Regions from separate parts of the Homo sapiens genome. Here region 2 is linked to region 1. Evidence: fine-mapped expression QTL. A gene starts in region 1. The other region holds a variant in brackets. All regions are shown on one strand. Distances are between the middles of the regions.

Region 1 (14,544 bases):
TAACCAAGCATTAGTAATCAAAGCAATAACAACCATAGCTGTCAGCTATTGTGTGCCCTTTTAATGGAAGACATCTGGCTTAGGTGATATTACTTTATTAATTGGTCCCCACAATACCACAATGAGGTAGGATTTTTTTTTTTTCTTTTTTCGAGATGGAGTCTCACTCTTGTTGCCCAGGCTGGAGTACAGTGGCGCGATCTCGGCTCACTGCAACCTCCACCTCCTGGGTTCAAGCGATTCTCCTGCCTCAGCCTCCCCAGTAGCTGGGATTACAGGCGCCCGCCACCACCCCCAGCTAATTTTTGTATTTTTAGTAGAGACAGGGTTTCGCCATGTTGGCCAGGCTGGTGTTGAACTCCTGACCTCAGGTGATCCACCTGCCTCGGCCTCCCAAAGTGCTGGGATTACAGGCGTGAGCCACCGCACCTGGCCAAGGTAGAATTTCTTACCCACATCTTACTGGTAAGATTTTAGAAGAGTTAGGCAGTTTGCCCGAGAAAGGTTGCAGATGCCAGGATTTATACCCAGCTCTGCCTGACTCCACACACAGTCTAGAGGGTTGTCTTGTGACTATTACTATAATACCAAATGCACAGTACAGCTGCCAAGGCCCTTAACCTTGCTGCAGTTCTGAGAGTTGGTTCTCTTTCAGTTTCCTGAAGGCAGGAACGTGGGCTGTTCGTCATGGTATCTCCAGCACAAAGCAAACGGCTGCCACATTGTAGGAGTTCATCCAGATCACTCTATATGAGGAAAGTGCGAAGGTGACTTGCTAGAATAAAACATTTCAAGTCAAAGGCTAATAGGTATTTTCATTATGTAATCTATAAGGACATTTAAAACCATAAAGGTTTGGCCATGTTGGTTTTATTTTATCCTAATTAATATCATGGAGACCTACTGCTATTCCAAAAAGCCAATAAGGTCCTTGGATTCCTCCTTTTGTTACTGGTGGAGAGTGTCTAGGTTTTTGACATCTTGAACAAAGAATTGGACAAAATGCACAAACAAAACAAGGAAAGAATGAAGCACCAAAACAAGAGATCTATTGAAAATAAAAGTACACTCCACATGGTGGGAATGGGTCTTAGCATAGGGGATCAAGGCCCCAGTTCCAGAATTTTCTGGAGTTTAAATACACTCTAGAGGTTTCCCATTGGCCACTTGGTTTACACCCCATGCAAATGAAGTAGTGGTCCGCAATCAAGAGGCTGAAGCAAAGTTACAAAGTTACATTCGTATGCAAACATCTGATTGGTTGTGGAAAGCAACCAGTCAGAGGTACTTTCAATTTTCTGTCTGCTATGCAGGAAAAGGAGGGAGGGTTTGCAAAGTTGGGGTTTTCCTTTTGATTTAGTTCTAGGAAGTCAGCCTAAATCGGCCTTAGGTTCCCTGCCTGCAGACTCTATTCTCCTGCCTCACTTTGGGAACAGCCCAGGATTCCTCAATGTTATAGTCCCCACTCACCATCCCTGCCAAGCACCCTCACATCTCCTTACACACAACAACAGACAATGGTACTCTGCCCCCAGGGAAGAGTTCTGGGTCTATTCAAAGACAGATGTGATCCTCAAGGACATGCCATAGGTCACAGTAGTAAGGGTCGAGCTTCCATTACTCCAGAGGAGAAGAAAAACCTTTGTTATTCATCTCTGCCACCAAAGGCGATAGTCTAGAGTGGATTTCCTCCTCCTAATGAGTTGCCCTCCCCATTGGAAAGGCCAGTGCAGGTCCCAGGTGGGGGAAAAGGAGGAATGGTTTGTTGTTTGTTCTAGCAAACAGGGAAGGACACTTTTTTCACTTTCTTGCAGCTGATGATGTAAGAAGGCCTGGCTCCCTCTTGCTGGTTAGGCCTCTTAGCCATGGCAGACCAAAAAGAAATCAGATAGGAAGAGAACATGCATGTATGGCTTAAGAACCTTGGCAGAGGGCTGGGCATGGTGGCTCACGCCTAGAAATCCAGCACTTTGGGAGGCTGAGGCAGGCAGATGACAAGGTCAGGAGATCAAGACCATCCTGGCTAACATGGTGAAACCCCATCTCTACTAAAAATACAAAAAATTAGCCAGGCGTGGTGGCGCGTGCCTATAGTCCCAGTTACTTGGGAGGCTGAGGCAGGAGAATCGCTTGAACCTGGGAGGTGGAGGTTGCAGTGAGCCGAGATTGTGCCACTGGGCGACAGAATGAGACTCCATCTTAAAAAACAAAACAAAACAAAACAAAAAAACAAACAAAAAAACAAAAAACAAAAAACAAAAAAAAACCTTGGCAGAGGTAGGTCAGGGATTTTCATTCTGGGGCATTTAGGAGACATGACCAACAGTGAATGATTAATAAATGATGAAGAGAGAAAGGGAGGAAGGCAGGAAGAAACGAAGGAAAAGGAAAGGAGCAATTTTTGATTCATTCAACAAAGGCCTATAAATAAAAAGAGAAAGGACAGTCTTCGGGAGCTCACAGCCCTTGGGGGAATCAATAAACAAGCCCTAAAGTTTGAACAACTCAGACAGAAATCAGAGGCAGCTGAGCAGAGCAGGGAGCGCGGAGCAGTACTCCCCTTTCTTCTCAAGAGGAATGGAGTTGCGGGGTCGAGGGGGCAGTGGGGAGCTGTTGGGAGGGAGCCACAAAGATTCTTATGCACCCAGCCAGTCTGACCACGGTAATATAAGGCAGAGTCCTACAGAGCCATATGCCCCTTGGCTATCTTCTTTTTTCTTTTTTTTTTTTTTTGAGACAGAGTCTTGCTCTGTTGCCAGGCTGGAGTGCAGTGGCACAATCTCGGCTCACTGCAACCTCCGCCTTTCGGATTCAAGCGATTCTCCTGCCTCAGCCTCCTGAGTAGCTGGGATTACAGGTGTGTGCCACCACGCCCAGCTAATTTTTGTATTTTTAGTAGAGACGGGGTTTCACCGTGTTGGACAGAATGGTCTTGATCTCTTGACCTCATGATCTGTCTGCCTCGGCCTCCCAAAGTGCTGGGATTACAGGTATGAGCCACCATGCCTAGACTGCCCCTTGGATATCTTCCTATGCAGCCTTTAATATAACCAACTAGGGAAACTGGTTTTATTTAAGTGGAACTTATTTAATAAAAATATCTCCATTCTGGGAGTGGAAACTTAAATCTATGTGACTTGGTTTTTTCATATGACCGGGAATGATTGGGAGCACCTGTTTGATGACGTAGCCGTGCTGGCAGTCGGAGGAGCCACAACAGAGTTGGGTGGGGCGGAGTGCTGGCATTTAACAGCAGCTAACAGCGTGAGGGCCGGCTACACACCTGGCTTAGTGCAGGGCACTGGGCACAGAGAGATGCGTAAGCATGGATGGCACACCAGAACCCAGGCGAAAGGAGCTTTGGGAGTTGGGAGGCACCAGCCGGCGGGTTATCTGCCTGGGCCTGGGAGAGACAGAGGCTGGAGACATGGCAGGGACAAGGAGCTCAAGACACTCTCCTGCCTTTTTGTCTTGGGCTGACCCTGTTCCCTCTTTTCAGAGACAAAGGGGAAAACATTTATATTGTCAAAATATAAAAAGAGTTGTTAAATGGTGAAAGGCTAAGAGAGCCTTTGTAAGCAGGAAATAAGGTGGACTAACGTATTTATGGAGAATGGGCTTCTTTAATGAAAGTAACAAATTACACACTTCCTCAGGAAAAACAGAATTGTAACCGTTTCTTCAGGCACATGTGAAAAGAAAGAAAGAAAGGAAGGAATAGTTAGTATCCTGTATCTTTTCTATTCCAAATTATGATGAGGTCGATTCAAAGTCCTTGTACATAAAGATGAGTCATTTCAGTACAGACTCTTTGGGTCTAATTTACATTTCAGAATTTAAAAAGCTGGTTTCAGTGTTGTTGGCCAGCAATATTAGCTTTCTAAGAGTAACTGAATTTTTTTCTAGGAAGTCTCATCTTCTCCAATGCTTTATTCCTTCCTCTCAATATATTTTAACCTCATGTTTGCTGGTGTGGAAAGCAGCTGAAAGGCATGTAGAATAATTTGAGTGCCTCATCCTTCAGAATAGGCAAGAAATTCCCTTTTTGCTGTTTTCCCATTGATGCCAAGGAATTAAATAAAGCAACCGTAATTTGTATGGCTTTGAGTTGTGTCTCTCCTTTCCACATTATTCTAGTCATCCACCATTAGACAAGTGGTTATATACATCCTTGCCAAGATGTAACTTTGCAATCAGATAGTGAGTTCTTCCGAAGTGTCCGGAAGGAGGAATTTCATTTCACTTGGCACAAATGAGGTAAGAACAGTATGACTTGCTCAATAAAAACAGGTACCCAAAATGTTTTTTATTCTACCACTCCCACCCTCCCTAGTGGATTATTAATTAGTTTAGGGGAACTGAATGCACCCTTGGTTCCAACAGCTTAATGAGCTACCCCATGAGGGCATCTGTAATATGTCTCAAGAGCTCAGACACATCCTGGTTTCAGAATCCTCTGACACACAGAAAAATACACCAACAATTTGTAGTTATTTTCCCACCAAAATGAAGGTGCTTTTTTTCAACACAGCAAACCTAAAGAGTCTGTACTGAAATGACTCATCTTTATGTACAAGGACTTTGAACTGACCTCATCATAATTTGGAATAGAAGAGACACAGGATACTAACTCTTCCTTCCTTTCCTTCTTTTCACACATGCCTGAAGAAACAAAAGAAAGAAGAAAAGAGGAATCTATTTCTGGTATATAAATTTAGTTTTCAGGGTGGAAAATCAGAATATTATGTAGGGCAACAATGATTCTGGTTATCCAAATATTAACTTTCTTTCTCCTTTCTATGATAGAATGACTAAGGTAACCATGAATGTAAGAATTAATTAATAATTTTCAGTCACTATGTGGGCATTCTAATTATTATTTCATAAGTAAAGAAGCCAAGGTGGCTGGGCACTGTGGCTCACACCTGTAATCCCACCACTTTGGGAGGCCGAGGCAGGTGGATCACGAGGTCAGGCGTTCAAGACCAACCTGGTCAAGATGGTGAAACCCCTGTTTCTACTAAAAATACAAAAATTAGCCAGGTGCGGTGGCAGGCGCCTGTAATCCCAGTTATTCAGGAGGCTGAGGCAGGAGAATCGCTTGAACCCAGGAGGCGGACATTCCAGTGAGCTGAGATTGCACCACTGCACTCCAGCCTGGGTGACAGAACAAGCCTCTGTCTCAGAAAAAAAAAACAAAAAAACCCAAGGCAAAGGAAAACAGTGAATTGTATGTACCTTTCTGAAGGAAGTAATTGATAATCACAAAAATACTTTCAACCACAGTTCAATATTACCTTCTTGGAATAGGCAGTGCACATTTGTACAACAGCAGGCATGTCTCGTAGCCAAATGAGAGATGTGTCCCTCCTCTTGTAACCTAATACAGGTTGGAGTTGTCTGACTCATTCAGATCTGGGTTACCGTTCTCCCATCTCTTAGCCTCTGTGGCTCAGAAATCAAACAGTGCTCTATTTTCTTTCAAACACATTCTGAGACTCTGCCCTTTTTGTATTAGGCTTAAATCAAAGCTACTGCTCTTAACCAGGGACAACTTTGTCCATTGGTGACATTCGGCAATGTCTGGAGACATTTTCGGTTGTTGCAATTGGGCCAGGGGTGAGGTGGTGGGGGTGTGGGGGGTGCGGGAGGAAGAGCAGGACACTGCTGCTGGCAACTAGTAGGATGTGGCCATGGATGCAGTTAATTATTCAGGGTGCAGGACAGCCCACACGATGACTATCCAGCCCAAAATGTCAACAGTGCCAAGGCTGAGAAACTCTGCATTAGAGAAAAGCATTTCCCAATAAGTTTGTTTTTTCATTCAACTATTCAACAAATATTGATTGAGCATCTATAATGCACTATAAAGAAGAAAAACAATCACTGCCCTCTGGGTCAGACAATCAAAGAAGGGAAGTACCTAACACACACACACACACACACACACACACACACCCCAAGATCACTGCAGCTATATGTTGTAGTATAGAGTGTGGTACATGTTGTGAAGGAAATCAGTGGATAACAACAGAGAGTGAACCAGGAGGTGCTTTAGGTAATATGGTCATGAAAGACCTTCCTGAGGAGGTTACTTGCTTTGGGTAGCAAGTAACAGAAACCCCAATTCAAGTTGGCTTAAGTGGTGAGGAAATGTATGGCTGGCATAACTTAAATCTAGAGGTAGGGTGGGTCTCAAGACTGACTTCAGCCCTAGGCTCCAACTTAATTTTCTTAGTTCTATCCACTTCCATGTGTCATTTCCTTTTCAGGATGATAGTAAGGTTGTTGTAATGGTTCTGGGCCTCATAACCTCACACAACAGCGCCTGGAGGAAGAAGAAGATGGAGGGAGTGGAAGGAAAGGGATGGAAAGGGGCAGAGAAATACCCTCATACCCAGGCATTCTAAACCATAGCCCTGAAAGTCACCCTGATTGGGCTGCCTAGGTCACCTGACCATCCTGGAACCAACGACTGTGGCCAAGGGGAATAGGATGTGCTGATTGGCCTAAGCCAAACAGTGACCACCCTCCGCATTCGGGCTGGCACCAGCTTCTCCTTAACTGGACAAGAACTGGGTGTACTTTGGGGAAGGGTAATGTGCTTACTGGGTGGGCATTCAGAAACCTTCTCTACAGATGGTGAAGAATTCAATAGAGCCTTGAAGGATGAGGAACTGGCCTAGCCAGGAGCCTGAGGAAGAATTTTCTAGGCAGGGGAATAAAGGAACACCTTGATGTGGGGTAGGGGGCCAGTGTGCCTGAGCACGGTGTTCCAGTGGCAAAGTGGCTCACAGTGAGTTTGGGGGCAGACATGAACATTTTCCTACACATTGAGTTTTTGTCTGCCACATTTATTACAAAATATGATCCTTTTTAGGCTAAAAGAAACATCATTTTACATATCTTTTCCATGTCCTACCAGACAAAACATACTTACCTTATTTCTAGGTGTACCTTTTTATAAGTCTCTGCTCCCTGCGTGATTTCCCCATGCATTCCTATTTTTAGATGATCATTCTATTATAACTTAAAATAAGGACAAAATAGGTTTTAGCAGAACCAATTAAGGTTTAAAAGATACATTTTCAGGTTAATATATAAGAAGAAAACAAAAATCTTTTGGTAAGCAAATATTGAAAAAGGTTCAAACGGACAAGATTTCAGATAATTGAGTATTCATGATGCCCCAGCATTGCAGAGAAGTGACAAAACACATCTTGATTTAGAACAAGTTTTATACTACTTCTGTAACCCTCCAGACCCTGGCATTATGCTGGTTATAGAGAAGACTGCCATACTGGTTGATACCAGAAATTCAAAGTCATATGCACTTTCATGTATATTACTCTATCTGCATATCCCCTCCTTTGCCCATCTCTTCCTCCTTTCAAGGAAGCCTGGCATAGTTTTTTATATCTACTGCATATTATCTCTTTGAATGGCATTTTTGTTTGGGCTTTTCTTAATTTTGCATTTTTGTTTTATTGTTCTTTGGAAGTGGTCTGTTTCTGCTTCCAATTTTGAGGTCCTTCTTATTCTCTAAAACAAATATGGAATGAAACCTAATAATTGGATTCATAATTACATAACAAGGATTTGTAGGGATTGTCATTATTTGGTCCAAGTCTCATTTTAAAATTTCTGACATTACAACAGTAAGTGTGATAAATTCTACATGTAATAAAATATATAAACATATAAAGTAATAAAATATAATAAAGTGTTAAAAGTGAATTTTTTTAATAGTCTTGCTATATTGCCTGGGCAGGACTTCAACTCCTGGGCTGAAGCAACCCACATGCCTCAGCCTCCCATGTAGCTGGTACTAGAGGCATGAGCCACTGCACCTAGCTAGGAATTATTTTTTTATTTTTAGAGACAGACTCTTGTTCTGTTGCCCAGGCTGCAGTGCAGTGGAGTGATCATAGTTCACTGCAGCCTCAAACTCCTGGGCTCAGGTGATCCTCCTGCCTTGGCCTCCCAAAGTGCTGGGATTACAGATGTGAGCCGCCATGCCTGGCCCAGCTAAGAATTTCAATTAGATAATAAATATGGTAGATTTTACAACCTCTTATCACTTACCTGTTGTGCTGAATAATTAAGGCAAATCGATTAAATAAAAGGGGGCTACACCATGACTACACAACACATCCACAGCAGTACAAGATTAAAGTTTGTACTGACTTTCACTGAATGATATTACTTCTATTACTACAATTTATCAAATACCACCATACCATGTTTTATTTATATCTAATCCTTCCAAAATCCTAGCAAAAATAGGTATTACTTCCATTTTACAGTCGAGGAAACAGAGGGCAAAGAGGAATTTGACAAAGATGACAGACTTTATATGTTTATGTTTATATATGTTTAGTGCTTTACATATAGTTTCCATCATTACATAAACACCATGAGATGGAATACAGAAAGGCTTAGTAATTATCGCAACATCACACAGCTCACAAATAAGAATAGCTAGGATTCAAGCCCATGATGTCTGACTCCAGGAGGCCTGGTGCCCTTACAAGCTGTACTTTATATAAAACATCTTAGTAGAGTGCCAAGGATTTGAACCTGACCCAAATCTGTCTGGCTCCAAAGACTGAGAACTGTTCATGTCTCCTCTTCGTACGGCAGTTAAAATGTGGGAAGCAGACCAAATAATCTCAAAGGTTCTTTCTGTTCAAAATTGCTATGTCTCCATGGATTTTATTATAAGGTTTTGATATGTAAGAAAAAGTTGGTGGGCGGGGGGTGGGGACAGAAACCAAGTTTTTGGGATGCATAACAAAAATAACTTATAGTTACAGCTAACTATATGTCCAAATGTAAGAACACAACAACCCCGTGATAACTATTATTGCTCCCATTTTAAAGGTGAGTTAACTGAAGCATGTTAAGTAAGCCACCTAAGTGGCAGGAAAACTAGCAAAAGCACATACAATTTACATGTAATGTAAACCTGGGCCTTTCGTCTTGCCTCTGACTTAACCAACTTGTTTTGATAGACAAGGAGGAATTCCCATACTCTTTATGAGTTAGATTTTTCTAACTTTAGGTTACAACTCCTTATTCAATTACACGCTTATCCAATAACATATTTGAACTGTGCTTATACTTCCACATGCCTGACATAAGGTAAACTCAGGGATCAGAAGCAAACTTAAAAAGACACAAAAGGGTATAAAAGACCTGATAAGTTATCAGCAACACAGTTCCACCTTTTCTTACACTGTCTCTTTACTGAACAAAAGTTAACGGGGACATCGCTTCTGAGGGAAAGAAACAAAAGCTGCTTCAGATCAAACAAAAAGCAAAACTTACACACAGTACCAATTTATGGCTAGGAGTGGCAGGGTAGAACAGCGTCGGCTTAAATCAGACCTTTTAAAAATAAGCAGAAAGTGATACCGTGGACAGCCTGCCAAATGACGTCACAACTAAAAATCGATTTCTTAAAAAAAAAAACACCTGACATTTTACTCCACAAGAGATCATCCTGCTGCCTGATGAATACAAGAACACTTAACACAACCCCTTTGCTTTTATTATAAGCGGTTTGAACTGGTGTTCCTTCTCCTAAGTCGTAACGCACCAGTTGTCGGGGTAATCCAGACAATAATAGAAGTGAATACAAAACAAACGAACAAAATGACGCTTATTGCCAGGGAACCCGCGCAAAAGCGCCAGACAAAACCCTACCCAGCCTCTCTCGCGAGTCCCAGAAGACAAAGCCGGGTCCCAGCAAGCACTGCGGCCAGGACTACACATCCCAGCATGCAAGGCGCACACTTCTCCCAGCGGGACTACGATTCCCAACATGCTCTCCGGACAGCTGGCCGGCCTCCCCACCATCCCGGTGTCTGGGGTCTCTGCAAAAATGGGGTCTGTCTCCGCCCGCCCAGCCTCCCTTTAGCGTTAAGGATCGGACACCACCTCCCGGTAGTAAATTGTGACTATTCCGAGTTTTGGAGTCATTCTTCGTTGCCTGTTTTATTAGGGCAGCAAAACGCCTGTGGCTAGGGCGGGAGTGGGCGGAGGCAGGTTTGAGCCAATGGCACGGGAGCGGCCCTGTCGCTGCCATGGCAACGGCGGCCGTTCTCCGGGGACCGGCTGCCCATTGGGTAGAATCTTTCCAGAAGGCTCGAGAAGAAGGAAGCGGAAGTGGCACGTGGAGGGGCCGGTGGAGGCGCCGGTGAGTAAATGCCGCAGATTCTGGAAAGTTCTGATCAGTGCGATACATAAGGCTGAGGAAGTGGGACCTCCCCTTTTGGGTCGGTAGTTCAGCGCCGGCGCCGGTGTGCGAGCCGCGGCAGAGTGAGGCAGGCAACCCGAGGTGCGGAGCGACCTGCGGAGGCTGAGCCCCGCTTTCTCCCAGGGTTTCTTATCAGCCAGCCGCCGCTGTCCCCGGGGGAGTAGGAGGCTCCTGACAGGCCGCGGCTGTCTGTGTGTCCTTCTGAGTGTCAGAGGAACGGCCAGACCCCGCGGGCCGGAGCAGAACGCGGCCAGGGCAGAAAGCGGCGGCAGGAGAAGCAGGCAGGGGGCCGGAGGACGCAGACCGAGACCCGAGGCGGAGGCGGACCGCGAGCCGGCCATGTCGGTGGTGGGGTTGGACGTGGGCTCGCAGAGCTGCTACATCGCGGTAGCCCGGGCCGGGGGCATCGAGACCATCGCCAATGAGTTCAGCGACCGGTGCACCCCGTAAGTGGGAGTCTGCGAGGGTGGATGGGAGGAGGTTCTGGGCCCTTAGTGTGGGGACCCAAGATCGCGGGCTGGCTGTACGGATCACCGCGGCAAACGGAGGCGTTTGGGCAGCGGCGCACCCCTCCGTGGAACTAGGGACCAGCGACCCGGCCAGAGGAGGGATGGGGGGCTTGCCATCACAAATTGGAGAAGGGATTGTCTCAGGGATTCACGGGGGTGAGAGGAGTCCCAGAGTCGAGACTCTAAGGGTCGTCACCTTGTGCGGGCTTCCTATTGGGGGTTTTCAAAACCTACTGGGGGTCGGGCTGCGGCAAAGCCCGCAACTTCGCTCCCTTTTCTTGGCAGGCTGCAGCCTGCGCCTTCCGCGGCCGCCCCCGTATCCCCACCCGGCCTCTCTGAGCTGGCTGAGCCGCCTCCAGCTTGTCCTCCTCCCTTCGCGCATATCTTTGCGCACCGCGGAGCGGGGCTGCCGGCCTTTTTCTTCCGCATTGTGAATCTCGAAATGAACTGGAAGCTTCCAGAGCTTGTGTCGCTGCTTGTCCAGTGAGCAGGCGGATTGTTGTTAGCGACCACGGAAGCAGTCCTATGAAAGATTAGCCCACCTCTTTTTACCCAGTCTCTTCGTTGCTAACATTGTTGGCCTTAATGCCCGGGATCATTGTCGAAAGATGTAAACGTCTTTTTTTTTGCTCTTTGCCATTCATGAGGAATTGTAAACCGTATTTTTAAAATTAATTTTGCACAGTTTATTTAAAAGAGAATAAAAATTGCATACTTTTGTGCTAGGACGCCAAAAGAGGATGGATGTCGTCACTGAACTAAATATTCTATAGGAGCATAGGGTGGGCAAAGGGCAACATTTTAAAAAGCAAGTTTCGTGAAGGGATATTTTCGGACGAGAATATATACAAACATATCTGCATGTGCATTGATGAAAACAAATGATTTCATCTCAAGGAAAATACTGTACCTATTAATTTTTTTCAAATGTCCCAAGCTCAGGATGAAAAGTGCAAAATGAAAACATTGAACCTAAAGGTAGAATGAATGACTGGGGTAATACAATTATTTGGGTGCTGAGAACGTTTATGAAAGTTGAGTGGAAAATCTGAGGCAAAATATTTGGCAATGTTAGTAACGTTAGGAAGACTGTTCTGAGCAACCTGTACGTCTACCCCTGCAGATCTAAGTTTGTGTTTTGGTTAAGGTTTTTTTAATTGGAGTTTAGTAAGAAAGAAAACAGTATTTCAGGCTTTCATGCCTAGATACAGTTTATACTTTGTTCTGGTTGATCCAATAAAACAAAGAAAAGCTTTTCAGAGAAGAGAGTGGGAAAAAAAATTGTGTTATACAGGGACTACTGTGTGAAATCAAAGACAACAGGTATGGCCCTGAAAAATGTGAACTGAGGGCAGTATTGGAGTTCCCCTTAATATGTTTGTTAAACTATAATTGTGGTGGATTCTATTGTATCAGCTACTAATTGTTATTTAGTACAATTAATTTGATTCTCCCCTAGGAAAATGAGTAGATCCATTCTGCAAGTGTATGGTTATTCAGAGCTTACAGTGATGCTCTGATTTTGACGGTTTCTTGTCTAGCTTCTGCTTGGACACTTCTCTGGCTTTTAGGATGCTATTTTATTTAACACTTGCTCAGATAATATAGTTTGAGGATGTTTCTATTATAGCAAATTTAAACTTAAGGGTGGTACTTAATGCCCTCAGTATTTTCCCGTTTTGCTCATCTCGTTTACCATTACTCATACCTAAGCAGGTAGGAGTAACTCACCCAAAATTAGATTATATTTGAATTAGTAATCCAGAATTAGATAACTCCTCTAATCCAAAACCTAATTCACTTACCTTCTTCTCACAAGACTTTTTAAGCTAGTCTCTGCTCTGTTATTGTGCGGTTCCATTTCCATGGTGGCTGAGAAGGTTGTTTCACAGTTGTAAGTCACTTTCCATCTCTTCAAAACAGATTTGATGTAACTGATTAGTCACTCCTTTCCCTCGACATTTATATTCTGTTTTGCCATGGTACTTGTTGTGCATCATTTTTTTCTTTCTCCGGCAGAATCTCCCAGATGGGAACCTCTTTGTGCTCTTTAAACTTCAGAGGTGTAACTTGGGTTCATTTGCTTGCGTTTGCATAAAAACTTTTGATTCCTAAAGAAGCCGGTGGTATATCAGAACAAAAGTCGGTATGACAATGACATTTAGATTTGTACAGAGTTGGTGACTGAAAGGTAGAGTCACATCCTATTTTTTGTTAGTCGTGTGTAGGGTCAAATTAATAATACCGTTAACATATTTAAAACATTTTCAAAGTTAATGTTCGGTTCATAATAACTGGAACCTGGAGAATTCCTGAGCCACGAGCAGAGGTTTTTGGGGTAGTAGAACTGCCACCTAGGTTGGATCTCAGAGCAGCAATTAAGTGGAAGCCCCCTTTGAGTATCTGATGAAAGCTATAGACCTTAAAATTGTGCTATGCTTGTTCCCTATCCCCTAATGGGTAGGACATTTATGTTAGTATTTTTCTCTTATCAGTTTAAAATATCAACCTTTATGCTTTTTAATTTTTTGGAATATATTTTTTTCTAGGTCAGTCATATCATTTGGATCAAAAAATAGAACAATCGGAGTTGCAGCCAAAAATCAGGTATGTTCTTTAAGAGAATTCGGATCACTTTTTAAGGGGGGAGTTTTTAAAAGGAAAATCTCAAGAGACATATAAGAGGGTAAAGTGTGCCTAAGTTTATGTATTTTTGAGTTTTAAAAATGTAATTCAAGTATTCTTTATGAACCTTCAGATGATGACACTCTTTCCTTTCTGTTCCCTTTCCCTTGTTTTATTAAGATCGACTTTAACTTTCTAATCTGCCATCCTTAACTTTTTTTTTTTTTTTTTTTTTTTTTGAGATAGAGTCTCGCTCTGTTACCCAGGCTAGAGTGCAGTGGCGCGATCTCGGCTCACTGCAACCTCCGCCTCCCGGGTTAAAGCGATTCTCCTGCCTCAGCCTCCTGAGTAGGTGGGATTACAGGCGCGTGTCACCACGCCCAGCTAGTTTTTGTATTTTTAGTGGAGATGGGGTTTCACCATGTTGGTCAGACTGATCTCGAACTCCTGAGCTCGTGATCCATCTGTCTCAGCCTCCCAAAGTGCTGGGATTACAGGTGTGAGCCTACGCCTGGCCTGCTGACTTTAACTTTTAGTAACTTTTTGCTGCCTTTCATTTATCTAATTTTTAGAAATTATAAACAAGGCATTTTAAGTTCTTGTGAAGTTTCTCGTGATACTCATTTAAGAGATTCCTTTTATAGAAGGAACTTCTAAGAAATTATGTGTTTAAAAGCATTTTCAGGTTACTTAGTAATTAAGGTAGGACTGGGAGAAATTTTTGTCCAGACCTGTGCTGTTTAAAAAATATGGTAGCCATGTACTGTATTGAGCATTTGAAATGTGGCTCGTCTGAATCAAAATGTGAAGTATAAAATACACATGAGATTTTTTACTTTTTAATCGAATTGAAAAGTAAAGTACGGTATCTGATCAATTTTTTTCTGTTGACTACTTATTGAAGTGATAGTTCCTAAAATATATTGGCCTAAGTTAATTGAAATTAATCTAATCTCTTACCAGTTTTTAACGTGGCTGCTACAAAATTTTATGTAGGTAGCTCTCCTTTATGACTTACATATAATTCTGTTGAACAGCACTGATCTAGACAGACCCCTTGGAGGTGGAGAGAAAAACAGTAAAAGATACGTGAAATGCTCTTTGAGAGGCTCTTTGAAATAAAAAACATTTTTCTAAATACAGAAAATA
Region 2 (15,907 bases), 40 kb after region 1:
AAAAAAAGAAACAAACAACAAAGCATACCTTTTCATTGAGCATTGGACTAGAAACTGACTTTTAACCCTGGTTGCATATTAGAATTTCTCAGGGGCTAATTGTACAAAATACTGACACATACTCTCAGAGATTGATGTAATTGGTCTGGGATGGGACCTGGGCATCAGGATTTTAAAAGCTTCCCAGGTGAGTCCAATGACAACCACAGGGCTGTTGACTGTATGTGGGGTGTCCTGTTTGATAACTGATGTCTCAGTGCTAAGAATTTGAAGTTTCCTTTTCAAAGCACTGATGATCTATTCTGTAGATAAACGGATGATAGACTCATCCATTTACATTTTTTCTGTAATTATCCTTTTCACATTGGCTATAGATGTTCAAGTATCACTTACATATACCCAACTTCCCTATACCTCTCCCGCTTCTCACAGGAGGAATTTTGGGATTGATGCAAAATGGCTTTCTGCACCTTTCTATAGGTTTTGTACATGTTTAACTGACTTCTGCATTAATCACTGAAGCTTTGAGTCCCACTGAGAATAAGCCTCTCTGTAGCCGAGTGAATGAAGGCAGCTGAGTATCTTGCTGTAGTTCACTGTTGGACTGGTGCTTTCAGGGGCTGCTTCCCTGCATCACCACCACCCCTCACCCCCCAACATCCTCTGCACAGACACGTACATCGTCCCCCGCGTGGACACATACACAATCCCAGGGGTTTCCTATCAATGTGTTCCTTTTTGCTTCTGGCTCTTATTATTAATAAAATACAGAAAAGCATGGAGAATTGGGAAACAACCCCTTCTTGCACTCAGTACTGGCCCAGCTGAGCAGGGAAGGAGTACTGGAAAGTGTAAGTGGTTGTTTGGCTTTTAAGTCAAACACTTGGGTTTACATTCTGGTTGCACTTTTCACAATCCATATGGCCTTGGCATTAACCTCTCCAGCTGGTTTCCTCTGTAAACTCAGTTTCTGCCTCCACAAGGTGGTTGTTGAAGATTAAAGGAATTTGTGCACATGATGTGTTGAGTGATCTTGGCACAGGGTGGACACCCAGGAAGTTCTACAAGTTATGTTGGCTGGGGAGGTGCTCCCTCGTCTACCTCTTCAGTGTTAGCTTTCTTCTCCGATATCAGCGTTCACTTTTTACTTCTCATTGCCACCGTTGCACACAAACACACTGATGTTTTATTTACCCCCTTCGTGGTTTCTGTGAAAGTGTGGCTTTTTAAGTAGACATTGCCAGGGAGTCAGAGCATGGCTTTCTTCCTGCTTGGTGAACCAGGAGGCTGCTGTGCGTTTAGCAGGAACCCAAGAGTCTTTATGATTGCTGAGGTGCCTGTGGCTCCTCTTGACTGCCCATGTCTGAGTGTTTGGGGGCGTTCAAAAGCCGAAGGGTGCCAAAAGTGTCTCTGGAGAATTGTGACTTTACAGTCCATAAGCAGAGGACAATATTTTCCCAGTCCCAGAGATGTAAACTATTGCCAGGGTGTGTAAGCTGTTTGGTTTCCTAATAAAATCTCTCAAGTCTTTTAATAATACCCCTTTCCCTTCTAACAATGACAAATACCAGACTAGCATTTAAAAAAAATGCTCCCATGATTTAGAAAAGTTGAAAGAATAGCACAGTGAACATGTGACCAGTTACTGTGACACTTCTCACCATGTGCCTTCTTGAGACAGGGACCTTCTCCTGAACCACAGGCCATCATCAAACCCAAGAAATCTCATTGACACAATAGTATTTCCAGGTCCAGTTGTCCATCAAAAATGTCCTTTACAACTGTATTTTTGGATCCAGGATACAAAGATTATATACTTTATTTGGTAACGATGATCAGCTCAACACTTTTAAAATGATGTAAATTTTGTTTGAGAATTTTGGAGATTTTATAGCTACTATACATAAGCATGTTATCCAAAGGATTACTTTGTTAGAGGAATTAGACAATGCTTCTTTGATAGTTGTTTTTAGGCATTACTTGTATCCACTTATGTCAAAAAGCATTATTAAATGTGGCCCATCAACCAAAAGGTTGCCATAAATTATATTGAATGTATTTGTTGACCTAACCTTAACAAACTACTGGAGTGTTCTAGTGATCAGAGTCATAACTGTTCCTCCATGATTGGGTGATACAAGTCCAGGAATAAACAGTTCCCACTGCTTCACAGCCACAAGAATAAAATCTAGAATAGCAGATATTGACTCTACAGTTGCTATGGCTTTCATGTGTTTATGGCACATATACTGTGTGTTCTGCACACAGGTGGGTTGATGTATTTTCCACACACAGCTGGTGTGTTCTGGTCACACTCCTCATGAGTGCCTGCCTGCCCATCTGGAATTCCTCCCTACAGGTGTTAGCCCTGGGCCTCGGAGAAGGGGCATCACCTTCACTGTACCAGTTAGGCCATTCAGTTGTAAAATGTCACAAACCCACCTAAAAGTACTTTGGTTCAAAGGGGATTTATAAGCAGAAGGATGGCAGGTAGTGAAAGCAAGCATTGACTAACCAGTCTGTGCATAACTCAGGGCAGCCGGGCTTTTGGAACACTGGGAATCCTCTCCACTATCCTTGCTGATAACTTGCTTCTAGGGGAGGTTGGGAAGCATAGCTGCAACAGCAGTCCCCAGCAGACACCACTAACACACCTCCCAGGGGCAAGAAGTCCCAGGGGGAAATTTCCATCCCTCCCAGGGACGAAACTGTGCCCAGAGTGAGCTCTGCAAGAACATGACTGCTGCCATTCTAACCATGAGTAGGTAGAGGGAAGAATATTTATCAAAGCAAGTGGGATGCTGCTTCCAGGAGAATGGAGGATGCTGGGCAGACCCAGCTGCACATCTGCCCGGCACGTAACCTAGTTTTTCCCGTTCTCCCCTGCATCCCAGGGCATGTGCATTCTCCCAACATGGCACAGAGGAGACTGGCCAGGAAATGTTTCTTCAGTGCTGAGTCCATAGGCATTAGGACCTCATGTGTAAGCAGCAGACCCTGAGGTTGCACAAAGTGAGGGTGGCCCAAGATGCTGAGAACCTCCCAGCTCCCAAGGAGGGAAGCAGGGACTCGTTACTCCTTTCCCACCACTGGGAATCATGCCTAGTAACCTGAGCAATTCACCAAGCCGTTGCTCTGAGCAGGGCTCTTTGGCCCTCACAGTTTGCCCAGAAAGCTCATCCTCCAACCCCCAGGCGCTGATGTCCTCATCTGTGTTGTGCATGGCGCCTCCTGCCCTGCTATTGTGTGGCTCTGAATCGGGGAGAGGGAGTGGGGAGTCCAGGCTGACTCCCAGGTCTCTCTGACTTTAGTCTCTCTTTTCAAGGTGAAAAACGGTGCCCTTCCTTGAAGGAGAACACGCAGAGAGAGAGCCAGAGAAGAAGGTGAGGGAGAGCCAGGTTTACCGTGACACATGTTGAATTTGAGGTGTGTGCAGAGCCAACAGCCAGCCAGTGAGCAGAGTCTCCCGGGTGTGGAACTCGGTAGAAAGCAGAGCTGAAATACAGACTGCAGTCGTAGTGGACAGCCGGGCTCTCGGTGCAGACACACAAGCCAGCTGTGCACGCAGTCCAAGTGAAGGATTTTTGTCCTGTGTGTGCCCCCCATGCACCTGAGTCATACGCACCCTCCTCTACTGAGCTTTTAGCCTCATCTACACATGTGAGAGGGAAGAGGCTCAGTTCTATTCATTTTTTAATAGCCCAAGTGCCTAGCACAGGGTTTGCATTTAGTAGATGCTCAGTCAGGATTTGTCAAAGAATTGAGGTTCAAAACAGAAACCCTCAGGAGGCCTATGTTAAGAATCAGGGCAGAAGAAAGGCATCTGAGGAAACAGTGGTGGGAGAGCTGGAAGGAAACAGGTGGTAGAGGTCACAGAAGCCAAGGGAGAAAAAGGAGGAAGGGATGGAGAGGGACGAGTGCTACAAAGTGGCCAAAGGAGATGAAGACCAGAATGTGCACTAGACTGAAGCACAGAGTTAACTGGCGTTTTCTGAGAGCAGTTGCAGCTGAATGAGTGTGAGGAAGCAAAGGACATTGCATTTGGAGAATGCTCTCCCATGTGTAAAATTAGAAAATTGAGTGGGAAACTGGAACAATAAATGCATTCCACAAGAGTCTGGGGTGGAGTTTGGGTGATGAATGCTGTGGTGTCAGAGGAAGATGGTTCTCTCCTTGTTCAACTTATCATGGTCTTCATATGCTTGTCTTTGGTCCCACTGAATCAACAGGGTCTGGAAGTCAGAGGCACCTGTTTCAGCCACCATCGAAATGGAAAGAACCCACAGGGTGTCCTGGATTCTCCCTTCTGTCCATCTGGCCTCACCCAGTGCTAGCCCATTCCCCTCTGCCCATTTCCTACTTGGGACCTGGATTAGTCTGTTCTTATGCTGCCAATAAAGACATACCCGAGACTGGGTAATTTATAAATAAAAAGAGGTGTAATGGACTCACAGTTCCACATGGCTGGGGAGCCCTCACAATTATGGTGGAAGGCAAAGGAGGAGCAGAGGCATGTCTTACAGGGTGGAAGACAAGAGAGAGCTTGTGCAGGGGAACTCCCATTTATAAAACCATCAGATTTCATGAGACGTATTCACTATCATGAGAACAGCATGGGAAAGATCTGACCCCATGATTCAATTATCTCCCACTGGCTCCCTCCCATGACATGCGGGAATTATGGGAGCTACAATTCAAGATGAGATTTGGGTGGAGACACAGCCAAACCATATCAGGAACCTCTTGGAGATATCAACTGCAGCCACTCACTCAGTCTCTCCCCCTTCCCATGCTCCTCAGAGTTTTAGCCAATAATGAACTATAAAACCATTCCTCACAGAAGTTAAAAAATTGCCTGACACAAAGACTTTTTGAGATAATAGGCTTGGAAATAGGAGTCTACGTTGGCCCAATGTAGACTGCCATCCATGGCAGACTCTTTGTTTCATGGCGGTGGGGACTGGAGGGCACACACTGGTCTGGGGGCTCCCCCTGGCCCATGAAAGCAGGTCTGCAGGCCAGGGGCTCTAAGGTCATTGAGACCTACCCAGGAGTGACATGTGCAGAGCTCAGATTTCTAACATAGTGCATCTTTCCTACATAAGCTCATAAATCTCTTGCTTTTAGGAAGAGAGGTGGGGGCATCACAGCTAGTTTTGGCAACCAAGGAAGAGCAGTCCTCAGTCTGAAACTATCCTCTGTGGTTGTTGGGGAGGTCCTGCACTGGTTGAAAAGTGTCCCTAAAAATGGTGATTAGCCCTTCCTCAGAGGTGGTAGAGATGTTGGGGCAGGACCATGGCTTCAAGGAGGAAGGGGTTACTCCCAAGGGACACCATGTACCCCCAAATCCTATATCCCTGGCCATGGCAGCCCTGCTCAAACCCACCCAACCTCCCACCCTCAGGTGTACATACATGTGCATATGCTCTCTCTCTAACACATACACACTGCATCACACATACCCCATGCATATGCATGCACACACACACACACACACACACAGGCACACTGCACCACACATACCCCTCAACCCCACCCTCCACCAGCCTTCACCTGTCCATCTTCCTGCTGCTCAGGCCTCTCCCTCCCTAGGAATCCCTGGCCAGACCTCCTGACAATGTTCCAGTTGGTCCCCAACCCCTCTATGGAGATCTCTTTGTGTCTCTCCTATTGTATTTAAATCATTACTTTATAATGTGTTTGTAACTCTCTCTGCTGCTAGACTGTGTGTTCCTGGAGACAAGAATAGGTTCTTAGTCCTATTTGTGTCCCCAGAGCTTAGCACAGAGCCTGAAACATAAGTGAAATGTGAACTAAATGAGCAAATGAAATAATTGATGGATAAGCACTGGCCAGATTCCATATTCCAAAGAAAACTGTGCTCCATTCCAGAAGTCTTAGTGTCATCTTTCTAGGGCTGCCATAACTAATGACCACAGACTGAGTGGCTTGAAACAACCCACATTTATTCTCTCTCAATTCTGGAGGCCAGAAGTCTGAAGCCAAGGTGTCAGCAGGACCGTGCTCCTTCGAGGGGTCTAGAGGAGAATC[C/T]GTCCTTGCCTCTTCTAGCTTCTGGTGCTGCCCTGCATTGCATGGCTTGTGGCCACATCCCTTTATTTCTTCTTTCCATTACTTTTCCACATGTATTTCTTTTACGTCCTTTTGCCTCTCTCTTGTAAGGACACTTATGACATTTAGGGCTCGCCCAGGAAATCCAGGGTAATCTCCCCATCCCAAATCCTAAATCACAGCTGCAAAACCCCTTTCCAAATGAGGTCATATTCATGGGTTCCAGGGACTAGAACTTGGATCTTTGGGTGGCCGTTACTCAGCACGCTATGGAATTCCCAAATGGATGAGAAAAAACATTGCCTAAATCTTTCTTGCAAAGTTTTCCCATGTTTCACCAGAGAGGAATCTCCTGGACAAGATGTGCTTGCTTTGTCATTGTCCAGGAACATCCAACCAGCGATTAAATTTGTAAGCCTTCAATCATACCTCTGTTGATAATAAAGGTGCACAAAAATGACACCTTTGCATGAGAATCTCCACCAAGGGCAGAAATGAAAAGGGAGACAGGAGGGTGTGCTTCAAGATGAGAGGCAGGGGAAGGTACAATATGTCATACCAGCCAAGTTATTTCAGACTAGCATCTAAGCCACAAAATAGAGTCTTTGGGATCTTGGGACTGATGGCAAGGGGAAGGCAGGCCCAGACTTAACCTTAGCTCCTGAAAGGAGGGGGTGGGATGAGGAACAGGAGGTGGAAGAGAGTCTGAGCGAGGGGGAGTAGTCACGGTTAAGATGAGACAGACTGGCCTCCAGGGTTGAGAAGAATGATCCTATCCCCTGTGCTGATAACAGAAGGACCTGACCAAGCTTCTAGGAGCTGTAGCCAGGCTCCTCTGAGCACTGGAGCCAAGTAGTGATACATCTGACTTTTTCCTGACCCAGCTCCTCTTTCTGCCCCCTTCCCACTCCCTCCTGCCTGGATTTGAATTCTGAGTTTTCTCTTTCCCAAGCTCCAGAGGGGTAGAGGAGACCAGGTCCCAGCTCTGCCATGTTTGCTGATGGGTCTGGACATCTTTCTTTCTCCCCTTTATTTCCTCAGCTGTTAGTAGGGGGTGAGGAGCATGGTCCCTCCTTGATGGTCCCCTACCTTCTACCAAAGCATCCTAGAAAAGCAAACAAACATTTGCTTGAGAGTTGGACAAGTGGTGCTACTTTGAGTTGTCCTAGACAGGAGGAGAGAAGGCAGCTCCATTCCTCGAGTACAACTGATTAGAGACCAGGATCCTGACTAGACTTCATTTACCAGTGGGTGGGGTCACTCATACCAGGGTCTTCAGCCTCTTGTAGATTTGGGTGAAGAGGAGGGAAAGACCCTGCCCAGGCTCTGAGCCCAAGATAACCTCCAGCTTTAGGGGACTACCAGGTGTCCCAGCTCACAATAAAATGGTGCCTTGGCTCCATTTTCCATTGTTCCTCGTTGCATGTCTTCCTCTGGGATCTCACCAGGAGAAGGGGTTAATGGTAGGGCATATTCAGACTCTCCTGGGACCCCTGCTCCAATGCCAGCCATCAGCATGCTGAATCCCATCTGGTCCCCTCTTCTGACGACATCCCATTCCCATCCTCCCTGCCTGCTGGCTGACAAGCCTCATGCTTTTCTTTATGGAAAGTGAAAGATGACAGATCCAGGAAGCCAGAAACATCGGTCCCAGGCTTGCTAGCAAACTGAAACAGCTTACCTCTCTGTGCCTCAGTTTCCTCATATGTTCACCAGTAGTCATCACATTTGCTCAGCCAGGTTCTGGGCTTCCTGGAGGTGAGAACTGGGAAAAGGAGACTCCTTTGAGCTCCAGTTTCTCATCTGCAAATTCTGAGGAACAGCATTTGTCTCACAGGATTGTTGGGAGGGAGAATTGAAAGATGAGATGTGGAAGCTCTTCAGCAATGTCAAAGCAAAATAAGTTGACGATTAGATAGAAAACAATGTATAAGAGGCTGAATGGAGGAGTGCCTTAATGCAGATGAGTTGCAGTTCAGACAGCATTTCTCAAAGGATATTGCTTGGAACACTCATCCCACAAAACACAGCTTGAATAAGGGGCTCCTTGTAAGTTTGGGAAACTGTTCCTTTCCTGGGGATTTACCAGGCACTTGAAAACATTAAGAGCTCAGAAAAGTACTGAGGTTAACAGACCCATTGAACTGTCTTTAATCCAGCATTTCCCAAACTCATTTCTTCAGGGAACCACTCCCCTGCCTGACATGCCCCCACTTTAATGCAGGGAACCGAGAGTAATCGTTACACTTGTCCCTGCCCCTGCTGTGATGGACGCGAGGGAGATGGGAAAGCAGGATGCTGGCTGCAGAGGCAGGAGGGAGTGAGAAGGGGGCAGAAAGAGGAGCTGGGTCAGGAAGAAGTCAGATGTGTCACTTCTCGGTTCCATTTCCTCCCATCCAGGTCAGACCAATTGGAAGCTGCACCTGGAGGTATCTGGAACCCTGCTTGGCATGATTTATAGAGGTGGGTTTTGTTTTGAACACTGCTGGCTTCATATAATGGCATTATTTCCTCGAGGGATTAGTTAATGGAGGGAACATTGCTCTCAGAGAAACAGCATCAACGCAGATCTCTCAACTTAAAATAGTACTGAGTAGACAGGCCATGACCCCGAGATTGAACTCGAAATGCTGCGGTCCAAAATCAAGGATGAAAAAGGAACACTTCGTTGAGCAGCGAGAGAAATCCACCATTGAAAGGTTTATAAAAAGCAGCTTGGAAAAAGGGGTCTGGACTACTGAGACTGATTGTTTAGGAGGCTCAAAGGCTCAGCAACAGAGGGGGAAAAACTGGGGGAGGAGCTGAAATGCCCCCCACTAACAGCTGAGGAAATAAAGACTCAGGGGAGAAAGAAAGATGCCCAGACCCATCAGCAAGCATGGCAGAGCTGGGACCTGGTCTCCTCTATGCCTCTAGAGCTTGGGAAAGAGAAAACTCAGAATTCAAATCCAGATCAGGAAGGAGAAAGGAAGGTAGGAGGGAAGGGAGAAGGCAAAGGAGGAAAGAAGGGAAGGAGGAAGAAAAGAAGGGAGGAGGGAAGGAAGTAAGGAAGGAAGGAAGGAAAGGAGGGAAGGAAGGAAGAAAAGGAGGGAGAGGAAAAGAGAGAGAGAAAAAAGAAGTCAGGCAGGAAGGCAGACAGGCATAGTCTGATAGTCTCGTGGCAATGGCAACCAACTGTCTAGCCTCAGGAGATGCATGAGACACGCACATATTGTCTGTGCCCCAGAATCCTCCTCCTCTCCCAGTAATGGCTGGGCTTCCTCATCCCTGGGGCTCCATCGGGCAACCATTTTTTGAGGGACCAGCCCACAGCCCTCAGTTGGCTGGGTCAAAGTGAGCACTGACCAGAGATATGCCAGCAAGCTTCAATTTGGGACTTGGAACCCAAGAGAAGTCAAAAATCAGTCTCTCTGTGGAGCAAAAGCTGCCAGTGAAACCTGGCAGCTGCTGTGGCCATGCTTCCTGAAGTGTGGGGAGACCTGGTCTACAGAGAGAGAGGTTGCATGAGAGAGCACCACACAGGGGCACGAGATGGAAAGACCGTCCTGATGAGGTTTTCACGTCCCTGGTGATGGTTTTTCCCATGGTCCTAGGAGAAAGTTGAGAAACTCTTAGGTCAACATTTAGCAGATGCTGAATGTTCTGTCTTCCTACACTGTCAGCTCCCTGAGGCCCCAGATGGCCAGTGTGGATGTCGAATTCTCGGGGTCCTCATAGTTCCATGGCAATTGCAGCAATGCAGGGAGAGCCAGCCCCTGGCTCTCAGCCTCTTACTTTCCTCCTTCTCCCTCCACCCCAGCTTCTTTCTGCACTGTGGAGGCTTTAATGTGCATATGCATGAATACCCCCACCCCAGCTAACATGTCCAGTATAAGTCCGCACCCCAACAAACCCTGGCCCCTTAACCACTTCTCTGGGCCTGGGACTGTGTGGCCCTTCTTGGGACTGATGGATGTGGGAGGAGGCCGTGCAGGTTCTGAACATGGACTTGGGGTGGTCTGGGCATGGGATTTCCCGGTTCCACGACCTGGAGAAGGAGGTGTGGTTAGGTAGGCGCATGGCCAGGACAGGGGTCCCCTTGCCCTGCTCCAGGAGGGGTACAGGTCATGGGTGGACCTGAGAGTGGGGAGCGGGTACTGGCAAGTGTTGGACTGGAGGAGGGCCCAAGAGATTGCCTAGCTTTGCAGTTAGGGGCTCTCTGCCCCTTGCGGTCTCCATTTGCAAAGTGATGGCTTTGAATTATAGGTGGAGGTTGACAGCTCAATGTTTGGGAACAAACAAAGGTTTGGATTGTGAATTTTTTTGTTTGTGTGACTTTGGGCAAAACCTTCATCTCTCTGAGGACCAGCTTTCTCATCTGTAAAACTGGATGTTCCCTTTCTAGGCTGCGGTGAGGATTCCACAATGTTGGTGAAGAGATCAGCACACTGTGTGCTTGGGAACTGGCAGCCACACTATTATTCTTTCTGAGGTTGCTCACTTACAGCTTTAAAGTGGCTGCTCTGGGGCCATCCTTGGGAAGAAGAGGGCAACTGGCCTCCTAATTTTATTCCCAGAGCCGATTTCCTTCAACTCTGGAGTCTGGTAGTTAAGAGCGCGGGCTCTAGATTCTCCTGGGTCATTTCATTGTTAACCATTGGTGAGTCACTTAACTTCTGGGAGCCTCAGTTTCCTGGTTGGTAAAATGAGATGATAACAGTATCTATTCCCAAAGATGTTATTAGGAATAAATGCAAATACATCTAAGCTCTGAAGCAAGGCCTGCCTGGCACAAAGTTAATGTTTAAATCTGCCAGTGTTTTTCACCAACAGCCTCATGGTTCTCTCCCACTGTCCTCAGCCCACCTATAGGCAGATGCTGTAGGTGGCATTTCGATCTGTGGCAGAGCTGCTTGGGGAGCCATCGGCTCAGCTCATCAGCCCTGTGCTCTTTGCTCAATGAAACGGCCTCCAAGGAAGAAAAACCTCAAATCTGATTTGTTCACTTAAATTCAAGCTCTAATTGTTTTGGGAAGAAGCCCACGGTGGCTGAAATCATTCCTTGTTTTGCTCTTCTTTGCTCCTGTCTGGCAAAGCTTAATCTCAGTCAGACCTTTTGATTGCACAGGGAAAAATTTGCCAAGAAAAGAAAATAGCAGCTGGGTCTCTTTAGAACTCAGACAAGGAAATTGCTTTATGATCAGGACTCCTTCTGGGCAGCTTCACTTCCTTCTTCTTCCTGTGTAAGAAAATTTAAATTAAACAAGTCTGAGCCAGTAACAGACAAATCTGGCTTCTCCCTGAGACCTGACACGCAGGCGACCTCGTGGCCCTGGAAGGTCTGGTGAATGCTGGGCCACCCCTGGCACAGGTGCTCTCCAGGAGGGCTTGCTCTGCCCCAGCAGCAGCCTGGTGGGAAATAACCAGGTAAGTACAGGGTGCAGATTCCTTGGGCACCTGAGGGCCCCCTGCTTCCCCTGCTTAAAGCAAAGACCCCAGGTAGAGCATGGTCATTGCACATTTTCCATCAGCAAAAACATATTTCCGTCAATCCCTTCTACTTGATCCTATGTTGCCCACTCTTTCCTACCTCCTGGATGTGTCTAAACCCCTCGGAAAGCCATCTGCTTCCACTCCTCAAACCCTTTCCCTTCATCATCTTGTCCTTGCCGCTGCCACCCCCAGCTCTGTGCCAACCACATTGAACTACTAGAAATTTCCAGATCCAGAACATCCCCTCTCTCTTGCCTAGTGGCCTTGCCTCAGGCTCTTCTCTGTCTCTCTTTGATTGTGGAAAAATGGCTGGGTGTGGTGGTTCATGCCTGTAATCCCAGCACTTTGGGAGGCCAAGGTGGGCAAATCACAAGGTCAAGAGTTCCAGACCAGCCTGGCCAACATGGTGAAACCCTGTCCCTACTAAAAATACAAAAAATTAGCTGGGCATGGTGGCAGGTGCCTATAATTCCAGCTACTCAGAAGGCTGAGGCAGGAGAATTGCTTGAACCCAGGAGGTGGAAGTTGCAGTGAGCCAAGATCACAATACTGTGCTCCAGCCCAGGTGATAGTGCAAGACTCTGTCTCAAAAAAAAAAAAAAAAGTGGTGAAACACACATAACATAAATTTACCATCTTAACCACTGTTAAGTGCACAATTCCACAGCATTAAGTACATTCACATTGTTGTGCAACCACCACCACCATCCATCTCCAGAGTGCTTTTCATCTTGCAAAACTGAAACTCTACACCCATGAAACAACAATTCCCCATTTCCTTCTCCCCAGCCCCTGGCAACCACCATTCTACTTTCTGTCTCTATGAATTGGAAGACACCAGGTGCCTCCTGCGAGTGGAATCAGTATTTGTCTTTCTGTGACTGGCTCATTTCATTAGCATAAGGTCCTCAAGGTTCATCCGCATGGTAGCAGCTCTTCCTTCTCTTAAGGCTTCCTTTCAGATGGCCACATCCTACTCATCTTTCAGGTCTCAGCATAAGTTCTCTCCCTCTGGGAAGGCACCCTGCTGACCTCCCAAGTGAGCACCCCCACCATGCTTTGCATTCCGATCCTGTCAGGGGACAGCCAGGGATGTGTGAGCTCCTTCAGGACACAGACTCCTTTCCATCCGTGGTTGTATCACTGCACAGCGCCTGGCACTGAGTGGTGGCCGCCAAATATCGCACAGGGAAATGTTGAACAACCTTTCCTTGAAAATATTCATGAAGAATTTTCAACAAAAACCTTGAGACCAGATCTGAATGCTCTTGATCTACCGAGGGTACCAGGTATCAACCACCCTTTCCTGGAGCATATTTGGTCTCTGTGGCACTGTTTTCTGCCTGTTCTCTGGTTCCTCTCGCCTGACCTACAATCTCTGCTCAATCCGTCCCTCCTTCTCTTTGAGCACTCGAGGTGGCTGCACCCACTTTTCTCCACACACATCCCCTTGGGTCATCCTGGCCCCACCTCTCTGGAGATGATTTCCAGTCGCCTCTCCATGCCTCACTTCATCCTGCACAGCCTGGGAAGCACCTCACTCCGGCCATCTCTCTCCTTCTTTCTGTGTAAGCTGACCCAGCCTCTGCGAGTCTGTTCGTTAACACCAGCACCATCATTTGGCTTGCAGTTTGCAAGGACATGCTTGATTCCACAGCAATGTGCCGATTGTCCATATCTTCAAAGTGTTCGGAGCATTTGTAAGCAACACCCCTTCCGTTGTATGCTCCTATAATAGCCCTTCTCCAAGGCCTTATCACGGTGGGGTGGCAGAAAGAGAAGTGGGATCCTATTCCTGCCTTGCCACATATTGGTGTTTTAAGTTTGGCAAATTACAAGTCCTCCCTAAGCCTCAGTTTCTTCATCTGTAAAGTGGAGATAACAAATAGAACATCTCCAGGGACGTTGTGAGAACTAACAATGGAATTTAGTGATTTCCTACCTAAATGGGTGAGATATCCCTGGGTGGAAGATCATCAACATGTTGTTGATATTGAATAAGGTGTGTGCTATTTGAGAAATTGGGCCACACTAAGACAATGTACGTGAGGTATCTTGTAGAACTAACATGCGTGGGCTGACCACAGGGCCATCACCTTCCTCCCTCCTGGGTTCTCTCTCTCTGTCCTTGGTCCCGCAGCCAAGCTGCCCAGGGAAAGTGTTGATTTTATTTCTAGGGAATCCATTGCTCAAAGGATCGCTGCAGCAGACACTGTCTTAGGTGAGTTGATGGATTAGCTGGCTCTCTGTCAACACCCTGCCAAATGCCCACAGCCCTCTGAACACTAATGCCTGGAAGGTGGTGAAAGTGGCCGGTATACTTCTGCTCCAGCAGGTGAGGGATTGAGTTGTGTGCTTAGAACAAGGTTTGTTCTCAAACCTGTTTGTGCCCGTCATGCATTTCATTGTGCTGATAAATTTATTTAAATAAAATGAAAATTCATGAAATTCATAAAAAAAACTTTGTGAAAGTTAAGGTGAAGACTTTGAAAAGACTAGCTGAAGGGTGATACTGAATTGAGGATATGTGAAACCACTGTTAAAGTGTCGGAGAAATTATAAAAATCTGCAAAGATATTGCACTCATATTGCTTTGCAAATATCATTAAATTCTTACTCTACTTTTACAAAGTGGAAATTGAAAATCATATATAATGCATTATGGAAGACCATGCTGAACTCATCTCTCAGTTGAAGAAACAGCCTTGGCTCTACATCAAAAGATTGGCAAATGAATGTACATCTTAACGTTGCAAATTGAAATAAAATGTTTACGGGATGTATGCATCATTTTTTAATGGTTCCTTGACTTAAAAGATATACAGTCATGCATCTCCATTCTGAGAAATGCATTGTTAGGGGGTTTTATCATTTTGCAAATGTCATAGGGATTGTGACCCAAGAAGGCCAGTGTGGGACACAGGGAACAAAATAACCCACAGAGCTAGAGAGAGGCACTAATTTGCCCTGCTTCCCTGTAAAGCCCACCACATCACAGCACAGGGAGACCAGGCAGGCGCACAGGGTCTCTGTGGTACCCCGGGTTTCCATAGCTTTGGGAGCCTCAGGGCCCCTCTCCACCTCATGCTCTCAGGAGGCCAGAGTGGCTGCACAGGAGTCCTAAGGAGGAAGAGTGAGGCAGTCGTACTTTAAGTGGCACTGGGGGAAGGAACATCAGCCACGCAGCTTGGGGTGAAGAACTGAAGGGGGCCTTGATGGTGAAACTGGGGGAGTCTTAGAGTGCCCTGAATCCTGCAGAAGGACATTTGACGTGTGAGATTTGAGCTGTGACCTCAGTTATACTAACAGGATGGGGTGGTGGGGTTGGCTAAGGGACAGTGACTCTTGCAGACGACAGGGCAGCCTGAGATGCCTCTGCCAAGAAAGGCTGCATTATTTCAGGAGGGCCCCCTCTTTGACTTGGGTGATTCTTTCAGACTAACTCCTATTGCAAAATGCATTCTGTTTCTTTATGCCTTCTTTCATCTCAGCTTCAAGGATGGAATCTTCTGGAGAGAGAATGTTATCAGTCTTTTCAGGCTGGAAGAAGGAACAGATATGGGAGCAGGAACCCACAATCACATTACATTGGTAATGAGGAACAAGGGCCACCTGTCAGTTACATGAATTTTCTGCTTTGGAACAAGATGCAGGCTGACTGAACCCATTAGATAACAAGAGCCTTTTCCCCTGAGCTTTGACTTGATTTTCAAACTACCAGCTCATATGTGATATCTTCCAGGTGAATGATTTTCTGCATCCAGTCAACTTATTTTTATTGTGGTCGTGATTGATCTCTGGCATCCTGGAAGAATAGCTACTGAGATCCAGAATCCAATCAACACATTGCTTTTTCAAAACAGACATTCAGAGAAACCTGACATTTTTAGGGCTGGAAAGAAACTTAGAGATCATCTAATCCCACTCCTCATTCGATACCTAACTCAGTGGGCATGACTGCTAGAGGAGGGCACAAGCTAATTTGGGTGAACTTAAAAGTGGAACCCAGGAAACCCTAACTCATGAAGAGTGCTACAAACATTTTATTCTGTAACTTTACAATTTGGATCCCCATTGACTGGCCCAGATACACTATAGAAGGGCTTAGGTTCTTTTTTTTCTGTGTATTTTTCTTGGAAATAATTTACAGACAGTTCCTCAGGTATCCATAGTCCAACTGGACAGAATCATAAACAAAATCACCCTATGGTTTTCTTACACAAGATCAAAGTCATGTGCAAAGCCTTTGCTTATCCTATCGTGTGCTTGGGGAGCAAGCATCATGTAACTATTCTGAGTTTCTTGAACTGGGTATCCTTTCTCCCCAATTCCTCCTCCCTCCCTCCTCCCTCTCCCTCTGCCCCTC

Which allele goes with the higher level. Alleles are on the strand shown, and positions count from the first base shown. SD is a standard deviation of normalised expression in the study named.
For the expression in thyroid of the gene that starts at base 10,279 in region 1, T is the high allele of the variant in region 2 and C is the other (small effect, 0.16 SD a copy in GTEx).

The links. PIP is the estimated chance that this variant, and not a neighbour inherited with it, causes the effect.
Region 2: its variant is the best candidate, but not a certain one, in a credible set for the expression of HSPH1 in thyroid (GTEx, PIP 0.67).

The regions. Positions count from the first base shown.
Region 1 is chr13:31,157,639-31,172,182 of GRCh38, reverse strand. It overlaps HSPH1 (heat shock protein family H (Hsp110) member 1), which reads left to right and starts at 10,279. Exons shown (of 18, transcript NM_006644.4): 1 at 10,279-10,707; 2 at 13,320-13,377. The coding sequence starts at 10,601. LOC105370148 (a long non-coding RNA gene) reads right to left here and starts at 9,523. Exons shown (of 3, transcript XR_941825.3): 1 at 8,086-9,523; 2 at 6,941-7,029; 3 at 414-746. RefSeq lists enhancers at 9,653-9,922, 10,153-10,272, 10,403-10,482, 10,094-10,639, 10,640-11,185.
Region 2 is chr13:31,116,931-31,132,837 of GRCh38, reverse strand. No RefSeq gene overlaps it. Among named protein-coding and RNA genes, the nearest start is that of HSPH1, 37 kb to the left of the region's middle. The variant C/T (reference allele first, on the strand shown) is at 6,052.